Regions from separate parts of the Homo sapiens genome. Here all the other regions are linked to region 4. The links come from fine-mapping of genetic effects on gene expression. Tissue or cell type: whole blood. Region 4 holds a variant in brackets; each other region holds the start of a gene. Each region is shown on its reference strand, or each on the opposite one.

Evidence for each region. PIP is the estimated chance that this variant, and not a neighbour inherited with it, causes the effect. A credible set is the group of variants that fine-mapping cannot tell apart.
Region 1: it holds the start of MRC2, and the variant in region 4 is fine-mapped to the expression of MRC2 in whole blood (TOPMed, PIP 0.99).
Region 2: it holds the start of ESPN, and the variant in region 4 is fine-mapped to the expression of ESPN in whole blood (TOPMed, PIP above 0.99).
Region 3: it holds the start of CTSE, and the variant in region 4 is the best candidate, but not a certain one, in a credible set for the expression of CTSE in whole blood (TOPMed, PIP 0.60).

Annotation. Positions count from the first base shown.
Region 1 is chr17:62,626,538-62,629,218 of GRCh38, forward strand. It overlaps MRC2 (mannose receptor C-type 2), which reads left to right and starts at 1,133. Exons shown (of 30, transcript NM_006039.5): 1 at 1,133-1,383. The coding sequence starts at 1,266. LOC107985020 (a long non-coding RNA gene) reads right to left here and starts at 1,513. Exons shown (of 2, transcript XR_001752961.3): 1 at 1,308-1,513; 2 at 1-472. RefSeq lists silencers at 1,053-1,492, 1,693-1,762.
Region 2 is chr1:6,423,179-6,425,859 of GRCh38, forward strand. ESPN (espin) reads left to right here and starts at 1,598. Exons shown (of 13, transcript NM_031475.3): 1 at 1,598-2,071. The coding sequence starts at 1,778. RefSeq lists enhancers at 313-927, 928-1,541 and silencers at 1,538-1,697, 1,728-1,777.
Region 3 is chr1:206,022,891-206,025,571 of GRCh38, forward strand. CTSE (cathepsin E) reads right to left here and starts at 1,005. Exons shown (of 9, transcript NM_001910.4): 1 at 834-1,005; 2 at 11-167. The coding sequence starts at 901.
Region 4 is chr2:60,489,694-60,492,374 of GRCh38, forward strand. The region is part of intron 2 of BCL11A (BCL11 transcription factor A); the gene reads right to left. Among named protein-coding and RNA genes, the nearest start is that of BCL11A, 63 kb to the right of the region's middle. The variant T/G (reference allele first, on the strand shown) is at 1,215.

The DNA.
Region 1 (2,681 bases), not on the chromosome of region 4:
CTCCTCGGCCTCCGAAAGTGTGATTACAGGCGTGAGCCACCGCACCCGGCCCATATTACAGTTTCATAGTGTTTTTGATTACTCGTGGTAGGAGAAATGTGTCTTCTTTGCACTTGGGGTCTCAACGTCTCAGTCCTGCCCTATGCCCCGAGACCCCAAGAGGCTTTCCCAAGGTCAGGCAGGGAATCCGCAGAGAGGCAGGGCTGGACTCCAGCATCCTGACTCCCCAGTTCGTGCTCTGTGCTGCAGAGACCTGTTGCGTAACACTGAGTAACTGTGGATTGTCTAACCTTTTATGAAATTTCCAGCTGGTCTTTTGCTACCGGCCAGCAGTCCAGTTGGTGGGAGTGATGATGCCGGTCTTCTGAGACGTCCAGTGGACAGATTTTCCCCAGGTTTCTGGATGCAGCCCCAACAAGCAAAAGTGCTACACTCCTGCACCGGGAACACTGACACAGGGGTCACGAAAATGCTAAAACAAGACGTGCAAGAATTGTTGCGCTCCGCACACGTAACAAGGGCTCTGCCTCCCCCTCCCCCAATCTTCGCCCTGGTGGCCAGGCCCTGGGCTCCGCCCCTTCCCCACCAGACCGGGGGAGGGGTCCTCCTCGGCATGGAGGTAGGGGATGCTAGGCTGCTGGAGACGCCCGCAGAAAGAGGCGGGATGGCGGGGCGGATGCTGGCGGCCCGGGTCTGGCCACCTGGGTCAGCTGCACGCCCCCGCCCCGGGCTGGCCGGACCTCGTAGCCCAGGTCCCACCACGCCGTGAAGTTTGCGGAAAGTTTTGCAGTTGCTTCCCCGCCCGCGCCAGCGGGGGAGTTGTGACGCAGCGTCTGGGGATCCTGGCCGGGACAGAAGAGAGGGAAGGCGAGGCGGGGAGAGACTGGGAAACAGAGCAGCAAGAGAAAGGGCGCACGCTGGGGTCCTCCTGGACCCGGCGTGTCCTCCTCTCCGCCACCCCTTTCTCTCCCTCCCGACGCTCTAGCCCCAGACCCGCGCCTCCTCCCCTTCCCCTCCCACGCTGCCCACTTCCCTTCCCCTCTACCCCTCGAACCCTCCTCCCCGGTTCTGCGCTCCTCCCTCCGCCCTCCCTCCGCCCGGGCTGCCTCCTCCCTCCTCCTCCCCGGGAGGCATCACTTCGTCCCGACCCGGAGGAGGACGCGAGCCCCTTGCGGGCGGTCATCACAGCCCAGCCTCGGGGCTGCCACAGCGCGTTGCGCCTGTGCGCCCTCGGTCCCCGCGTCCACTGAGCGCCGCGCTCGGGGATGGGGCCCGGCCGGCCGGCCCCCGCGCCCTGGCCTCGTCACCTGCTGCGCTGCGTCCTGCTCCTCGGGTGCCTGCACCTCGGCCGTCCCGGCGCCCCTGGGGACGCCGCCCTCCCGGGTAAGGCGCTGCCAACTTGGCCAACTTCAGGGCCCGGGCGGGGGGAGCGCCGAGGCGCGGGCCGCTCTCGACTTTTCCCTCCTTTTCCCCCCTCTTTTCTCCAGAAGCGTGTGTGCGTGTGTGTGTGACTGGGTTTTTAAAACTCGTCTCCGCTTTTCTGAAAGCGGGGGAGGAGAGGGGAGGAGGAGCGCGCCTAGAGGTGGGGGAGGACCTGAGTGGAACCAGATGTGGCGGGCGGCGGGGGAGGGGAGCCCGGGGGACTCCAGCAGCCTAGGAGGAAGCGGGTGGGCTCTTGAGGACCCCCGCGCACCGCGCTCCCGGACCACCCGGCGCCGGCCCGTCCTCGGCAGGGGACCTGCAGGGCGCGCCCGGGGAGCCAGGGCTCTCTGTCCGGGAGTTCCCGGGCCCAGTCTCCTCGCTCTGCCCCAGGACTGATGCGTTAGGACGGCTTTCCAACTATCCGCGAGGGTTCGTTTCCCCCACCTTCCCCCCGCCCCCTGCATCTCGTGGGCGTTGATATTTTCTTTTCCACACTTAGTCTTCAAGGAGGCTTGTGGCGCGCGGCATCCGCCCCGCGTGAGCTCGGCAGCCCTGTGAGGAGGCTCCTGCCACTGGGACGCAGCAACAGGCTGGGCGCCGCCGTGCTGTGATGTTGCGTAGCGTGGGCAGCTCTGGGCACACTAGTGGCCCTCCAGAGGGGACAGACCTTGAGCGGCAAAAGAGCTGCTAAAGATTTTAAAACCCAACGAACAGGAAACAAAACAAAAATCAGAAAACCCCAAAACTGTGCCATTCTCTTCCTGCTCCTTATTCAGGGGTAACAGTGAAGTGTGGGGACAGACAGATCCCTCGCCAAGAATCTAAGAGTTGAAAGGAAAGATCCACTTCCTGGGGGAGTGGGGGTGGGGGTGTCTGGAGTGACCGGGGGAATCGCCCGGCCCAGCTTGGTCCTGCTGGCTGTTTAATTGGGGGATGGGGACAGTCCGTGCAGTGTCTGCAGTTTTGTGCAAGGACCAGACAGCCCCCTGGAGAGTCTGGGGCCTCCAGCCTGGCCCGTGCTTGCTGGGTTGGCCTGGCGTGACGTAGGCACAAGACACATATCTGCCAGATGGGAAAGGTGGGGGCCACGGTGACCCACATTCACACCAACCGGAGACCCCCGGGGCAATTCTGGGCCCACCTGGCATTGAATGTGGGACAGACACAAACCAGGCCGGGTAACCCCCTAACCCACTGCAGGGCGGCCTCACAGGCAGTTCCCCTACCTCCTCGCACTCCTGCCTTCCTCTGCTCCTCTG
Region 2 (2,681 bases), not on the chromosome of region 4:
CTAGATGAGCTCGTCCATGACCAAGGTGGCCACCTTAGGAGTGGAGAACACAAATTGCAGGGCCTTTTGGAATGGAGGAGGCCCAGGGGAGGGGTGCCCAAGACAAGCCATTTTAGCACCTCCTCCCAACAGTACCCCTGCCACTTGCTGGCCTCACGGCACACCTGCCTCTGGGCACCCAGAGGAGGGCAGCGCCAGCCGCAGTGAGCCTGTTGCTTTGGCCACCAGCTCCAGCAGCGAGGCTGCGAGGAAATGACTCCTCCTTCCTTTTGTCTGCAAACCACTGGGCAAGCGTCCCAGATTCCAGCGGCCACAGGTCCCATGGAGAGAGTGAGGGCGATCTGGCCTGGTGGAAGTCGTTGGAAACCCACCTGGCTAGGCACAGCCCAGCAGCTCCAGTTACCTGGGCACCTGGGAGCGCGGGAGGCCATCACGCAGGTCGCCACTAGGTGGCAGGCCCAGGGAAAGGACCGGAGGCAGCTGCCGAGTTTAGCACTATGAGTTTAGCACTATGACTCCCACTGTTCCTGGAAGGGGCTTCCTTCATTCTACAGCATTTCCAGTGCTGACTGTGCCAGGCTGGGGCTGGGGCGGAGTGAAACCTTCAGCCCGGGGTGGGGCCAAGCCCCCACGGGACTCCAGAGGGGGTGGGTGTTGGGACAGGAAGGGCACAGGGTGCTTCAAGATCGCTGATAGGCCGCCTGCACTCCCACAGCCATGTAGCTCCCACCTTCTGTCAGCTTTTCCTCGCGTCCTTTGGGCACTAGCCGCTCCCACGGCTGGTGTTCAGTGGAGCCTGCAGGGTGGCTTGGCACACATTCGCTCTCCTGCCCGCGCCCTCTGGCACTTTCCTGAGCCCCTGCAGGGGTCTCAGCCCCCTCTCTCTGGATGCCGGCGCTCCCGCGTCTCCCCACAAGCCCTAACCTCCCACCCATCCCTGCCTTCTGTGTGGCTGGAAGCCCCTCCACACCGACAGCGGCTGCGGGCGGCCTGAGGCCATGGCGTTCCCAGCGCACTAGTGGTTCCCGTCCTGCCTTCCTGCCCTCCCCGCTGGAACCTCTGGGGGCAGTTCTCGGATCTGGAGGGACCCTGGAAGGCAGGGCTCTTTGCAATCTCCGGGGATTTCGACCCAGAGCCCTTCAGGGACGTGGCAGGGCTGCTCCTGCCTCAGGGCCGTTGTCCTCGTGCTCCTCACCCCGCCTGGAATACCCTTCTCGCCGCTCAAACCCAGCCCCACGGCACCTCCTCAGAGACCTTTCCCTGTCCGCCCACGCGGTCCCGACAATCACTCCCCATCACCTCTGGAATTGCGTCGCCGGCGCCTGGAACCGCAGTTAGCGGGCACTGGGCAGATGAATGAATTTGTCTGTGCCTGGACGGCTCTCCAATTCGAACCCAGTTTTGCTGCCCTCTGGGGTCTCAACTGTTACGTGAGGCAAATTAGGAGAGAAGCCCCTGGGCACCTTGCCCCAGTCGCACGAGTGTCCCCGCGTCGCGGCGGGGGCGGGCGGGGAACTCGGGCGGAGGCTGCGGGGCGGGGCGGGGCGGGGTGGGGGCGGGCCCGAGTCTTAAGCCGGCGTCCGCGGGCTCCGGCCCCAGAGCGCGGCGGAGCGGAGCGCCAGGCAGCGCGGAGCGGAGGCCAGGCCCACAGCCGCTCCGCCTCCCGGCCCGCAGATCCCCGACGGCCGCACCGCGGGCTCCTCTGGCCCGCAAGAACACGTGCATGGCGTCCTGGGGAAGGCGCTGAGTGCGGAGTCGCGGCGCCGCACGCGGCACCATGGCCCTGGAGCAGGCGCTGCAGGCGGCGCGGCAGGGCGAGCTGGACGTGCTGAGGTCGCTGCACGCCGCAGGCCTCCTGGGGCCCTCGCTGCGCGACCCGCTGGACGCGCTGCCCGTGCACCACGCGGCCCGCGCTGGGAAGCTGCACTGTCTGCGCTTCCTGGTGGAGGAAGCCGCCCTCCCCGCCGCGGCCCGCGCCCGCAACGGCGCCACACCGGCCCACGACGCCTCCGCCACCGGCCACCTCGCCTGCCTGCAGTGGCTGCTGTCGCAGGGCGGCTGCAGAGTGCAGGTGGGTCCGCGCGGTTCGCCAGGGGCACTGAGGCTTCCTCCTCAGGACAGAGTCCTGGCCCAGAGTCCCCCGGGGCTCAAGGATGGGTGGGGTTTGGCACCTCCTGGCCCAGCTGAACCCTGCACGGAGCTCCTTCCAGAGGCCCTCAAGTGAATGGGCTCCCTGGCTTGCCAGTACTGGGGCAGATGCCCTGGCGAGCCTGGGTGCTCCCTGGAAGCGCACCTGGGTGATGGGAGCCAGAAGGGAGGGGCCTCCGTGGGGCTTGTGGTTACTAGTGTGTACCGGGAGAAGCAAAGCACTGATCCTGTAGTCCTGGAAGTGGGTGGGACGTGAGGCCTGGGCAGCAGAGTCAGACGCCCGTGTCCTCCAGGACCGGATCTGAAAGGAGGCTGGGCAAAGTCCCACAGCCCACCCGAGGCTGAGATTCAGGTGTCCCAGCCAGGGTGTGGGGGAAGGGTGATGAGCCGTGGTAAATGGGGGTCTCCCCATAACCCAGGCTGACCCCAGGACATCAGTGCTGTCAAGCTGTCAGCTGCTTCTCCAACCCAGGCTGATTCTTGCTGCCTCCAGACCCCACCTGGTCACTCTGAGCAGTGACCTCCAAGGGGAG
Region 3 (2,681 bases), not on the chromosome of region 4:
GAGGCCTCACATCCAAGTAGTTGATGAGGGGTTCCTTGGCACTCTGGTCCATTGAGCAGGACTCGGTGAACTGGATCATGTCCAAATTATGGGATTTCCAGAACTCAGAGAGCTGGCTCCGTGCCCGCAGCTTCTTCTTGAGGGACGGATGCCTCCTGAGGGGCACCCTGGAGACAAACCCCCATGTAAGCAGGAGATGTACTTCTGCCTCCCTCTTCCCCCCATTCTCGTCCCATTTTCTCAGGGGCCAACTAGAGAAGATGGGGTGGGAGGGGGGGATCTGCAAGACAGCACGCAGGATACAGGTGGGATCAGCGTCCTCTCTGCCACTCAGCCTGCCCGGCCTCATCTCTGCCCTATAGAGTCTTAGAATCTTAGAGTGGAAATGGCTCCCCTCCTGGAGCTGAGGTCTTTGAGATCTAGGAAAATGGGAGATGTGGGGCGGTCTACAGTTTTACATGAACATCACGAAGGGCTGATTTAAAGGGACAGAAAAACTCTTGGGGACAGTGATGGTCAGTCCCCTGGGGAAGTCCTGGGGCGCTTTGAGCTACAAACCACAACTGCAGGTTCCTGCTCTTTTGCAACACAAGAAGACCCCTGGGACTTGGGAAGGCACCTCCGTGGAGGTGGAGGCAGGAGGATGACTTGTTGAGGACTGGAGATTAAGGCCATACACAGGCGGTCACTGGATGAGTCTCTTCCATGCATTGACGCAAGCCCTCAGCTTCTCCTCCTCTTCACCTCCCCATCAGCTTTCCTACCCCAGAGCAGCCCTGAGTTGCAGGGCATGGGACTACCCAGCTGAACACAGTGCGGGGACGTCTTCTCACCTGTGAAGGGATCCTTGGGCCTCTCCCAGCTCCAGGAGCACCAGCAGCAAAAGAAGGAGCGTTTTCATTGTGAGTCCGACCAGCAGCTTCTCCCTTGCCCCCTCCTTTCTTCTCTCCCCGAGGGCAGTGGGAACGGACTTTCCCTAACTCTCAGACCTGCCCAGCCCAGTCTGAGGGCCGAATGATAAGGCCCTGGAGTCATTAGCCATGCCCAGAGTAAATACGGCATGTGGAACAGGGCGTTCCCCCTGCACCTCTCCGTCCCTTTCCCACCTACAAGAGGAATATGAGTCTGCGGGGAGAACTTGGGAGTCCTCTGGGGCTTGGCTTCTCTCAGGGCTTTGGCACCTCCTCTGACCCCAAGAAACCCTGTTAATGAATCCGGAGGGCAGCACATGCCTGGCTGCCTGGAAAGGCCCACTGAACTCTTACTGCAAGTGCTCTAGCTGGAGACTCTGGAGGGGTGGGAGCTGACTTGTCATGGGTGGCAGGATTCTAACTCAAAATATTCGTCAGTCTGTTTTCTGGGTGATTCCTGTTCTCTCCTCAATCTCTCAAATGCTCCAAAGGCAGTTTATCCTTCCCTGGCCCACTTTGAAGCACAAACCAGCACTCCTCAAAGGCCCTGAAATGGGAAAATGTAGCTGCAGATTTATGGAGCCCACTCTCCTGACTCTAAGGACTTGATGAATCTGGGGCTGGGGCTCAGGGGTGTGTGGAGGAGAATGCAGGGGCAGCGAGGGAGGGTCAAGGGGGTCAGCGTCTACAGCAAGTGCCCGCATGAGTCTACTAAAGCGGCCATGACAAAGTACAGGGGGCTTAAACAACAGAAATTTATTTTCTCACTATTCTGGAGGCTGGAAGTCCAAGATCAAGGTGTTGGCAGACTTGGTTGCTTCGGAGGCCTCTCTCCTTGGCTTGCAGATGGCTGCCTTCTCTCTGTGTCTTCACATGGGTCTTCCCTCAGCGTGTGGCTGTGTCCACATCCACATTTCCTCTTCTTATAAGGACGCTAGTCATATTGGAGTAGGGCCCACCCTAATGACTGCGTTTACCCTTAATACCTCTTTAAAGACCCTATCTCCAAATACAGTCACGTTCTGAGGTACTAGGTGTTAGGACATCAACATGGATTTTGGAGGACAAAGTTCAGCCCTTAACAGTGCTCAGGGACAATAGGATCTTCTATCTGTCAAGTGGGACTAAGCGCAGGGGTGGAGAGTGGGTGGGGCTCAGGCCTTAGTTACCGCAGTGTGTGAAACCCCCTCACCATCAGCCTATCTCTGTGGCCACCCGCCTCATAAACAGATGGTGGGGCTTCAGTGCCTGGGGTGGGGATGAAGGGGTTACAGGTAGGAAGACCCTGACCCTGACTCAAGTTAGCCAGGGCAGCAGAGGCCACCACCATATGCCAATGCTTCCAGAGGGCACTAGCTCAGCAGTAGGAAGTAGATGGCCTGCGTTTAGGTTTAGCTCTGCCCTGACCAGCTAGTGTTCTGGAAAATCTCTTAAGTGCTATGGGATCTGCCTTTCATCTCTGAAGTTCAAATGGCAAGCAAACGTGGAGTATGGAGCTAAGCCAAACCCACCCTTGGGTCCAAAAATGTTAAAAAAAGACATCAAAAAGACTTAAGGAACAGCCTAGACCTTTGACCCCTGAACCCAAGGCAACAAAGCCTCTTTGGCATTTCCCAGGAGCCCGTCTTGTTGATCTTTCACTGGGGAGAGTGGTCTAAACCTAGAAGGGCAGCTTGAGTCAGAAGTGGCTAGAAGTGGAGATCATTCATTTTGGCAGTAAACTCTGCCATGTTTTGCCCGTAACTGCTTATTCACCACATACCTTAGTTT
Region 4 (2,681 bases):
CCCTGGCTCATCTCCTGAGCCCCCGGGCCGTTCTCCTTTCCAACTGTCTATTTACTAACCACTTTTATCAGCCCCCCTCTCACCCCATCCAAAAATGTTTACTCAAGTTCAGGCTAGCTTAATAACCCCCAAAGCAGGAGGACACTATTAAAGAGAGATCACAGGGATATGAATTTTGATGCCTGCCTTATTTTGTCACATATCATCAAAATGATAAATGCTATCATGAAACACCATCCATGCCCTGAGTATCCCAACATGGATGGACTGGAGGAGAGGGACAAGGGACCAATACAGACCCTGATGGGCCCTTGATTCTGAACGTCATTCCTGCCCACTCCCCATCTGCAATGGGGGCAAAGGCAAAAGGAAAGCTTTCCAAGATTTAAACAGTCCTCTATATTAGTAACAGACCCATGTGCTAGGCTCCTACAATATCTGGTTCCATTCTGCTAGTGAAAGGAAACCCTACGGTCAACCAACTCCATCCTCTAGAACATATAAGTCAACAGGGGAGAACTCGGCATGAAGGGTATAACAGAGAATTTCAACAACTCATCCACCCCCTTTGCAGAGTCCTCACTTAACATCCCCTAGCATGCTGCCTTTGTCTTCTGATCAGAGTATTTCAGCAGCCCTCTGTGATCTATAGGATATGGTCCAACTCCTTAAGCCATCATTCCAGAGCTCCACAATCCAACTCCAATTTTCTATTCCAGTCTTAGTTCCCCGTACCCATCAAGGAAAATATTCTGCCCAAGTAAAAATCCCTTCCGTTCTCATTTCCTTCCTGGCTTTTCTTCTTCTTCTCTTACCTCCTGGAATCCTGCTCATACTTCAAGGCCTCAATGAAGGTCTACCTAGTCACCTTAGCAAGAAGAATCAATCTCATCCTTCTCCAACCTCATAGAACACTCATCCCATGCACCACTCCCTGACTCATATCTAGGCCTTACATTGCTGGTTAACCCTCTATGCCTCTAATTAATTTCATGTGTTCCCAATGAGTTTCTTCAATACAGGGACTCTTTCTCCTACTTGCTTCTATTATATTTGAAAGTACCAGCACAGCATGTGACATGATATTCATATATTCTAGGAATTCAACAAATAGCATATAAATGACTGATTTACCTTCCTAAAAGGGAAGTTATTTTTCCAAATATCATTTCTGTTCAAAATGGTAATTTTAACCTTCTTAGCACCCACAAACA[T/G]TTCCCTTCTGATATCTACTTGAACTTTCAGATAAAAAAAAAAAAGCAAGTTGCAGTAACATGTTATGCTACACAAAGATTAGCATGAATATCCACCCTCTTTAAACAGCCACCCCACACCCTGGAGAAGAGCAAATGTGAAGTTTATGTGCCAACCAGACTGTGCGCCAGGTTGGTAAAGTCTGACAGAGTTACCAAAAAATGACAACATCTTCTATATGTGAAGCCCAACTACGTGGTTGTGCAACTCTATAGCTGACTTTCAACCATGGTCATCTGCAAAGAAGTTAGTCTCAGCCACCTGCGCATCCTCAATGCAAAAAGCTAAGTTCTAAAAACGTATTCTTAATGCTGTTTTAAATGCAGCACTACTAAAAAGGACCTCATTTTGATGCCAGAGGGCAGCAAACATGGACACTTTTGGCCCCCTTCAGCTATTAAGTACAGTAAAAGGAAGTCCTAACTATCATTTGAAATGCTCCCGGCCAGGCGCTGTGGCTCACACCTGTAATCCCAGCACTTTGGGAGGCCGGGGCAGGAGGATCACCTGAGGTCAGGAGTTCAAGATCAGTTTGGACAACACAGTGAAACCCCGTCTCTACTAAAAATACAAAATTAGCCGGGCATGGTAATACATGCCTGTAATCTCAGCTACTCGGGAGGCTGAGGCAGGAGATCGCTTGAACCTGGGAGGCAGAAGATGCAGTGAGCCGAGATCGCGCCATTGCATTCCAGCCCGGGCAACAAGAGTAAATCTCCGTCTCACCAAAAAAAGAAAAAAGAAAAAAAAAAAAAAGAAAGAAATGCTCCCCTCAGTTCTCCAGGCTGGGCTGACTGCCCACGTCAAAACACCCTAGGCATCATCACTCCGTGTTGAGAGCCAAGTGGCCAGGTAGGACCCAACACTACGCAGGCACAGACGTTTTCCATGTTAAGAACCCAAATCCATACAGTCCTTAGCACCCAAATAGGTTCAGAAAAGGCAGTCCACACAAATCTGCCAAATAAATGAAGTTCAGATATTGCATTTACGCTAAATACCTTGGAAATTGAGAGGGAATCTGGAGAGGAAGATGGATGTAGGAAAAACAAAAACCCTCACTTTACAGGAATTCAGCACAGGAGATGCTACATTGTTAGCATCTCCGCTTAAGGAGAAGACATACTGATGAATAAGACTGAGTTGGTGACAGGCACAGTGGCTCTCGCCTGTAATCCCAGCACTTTGGGAGGTCAAGGCAGGAGGATCACTGGAGCCCAGGAGTTCAAGACCAGCCTGGGCAACAGGGAGAAACTCCATCTCTACAAAATTAGCCAGGCATGGTGGCATGCACCTGTCGTCCCAGCTACTCAGGAGGCTGAGGTGACAGGATGGCTTGAGCCTAGGAGATCAAGGCTGCAGTGAGCTATGAACATGCCACTACACTCTAGCCTAGGCAACACAGCGAGACCCTGTCTCAAAAACAA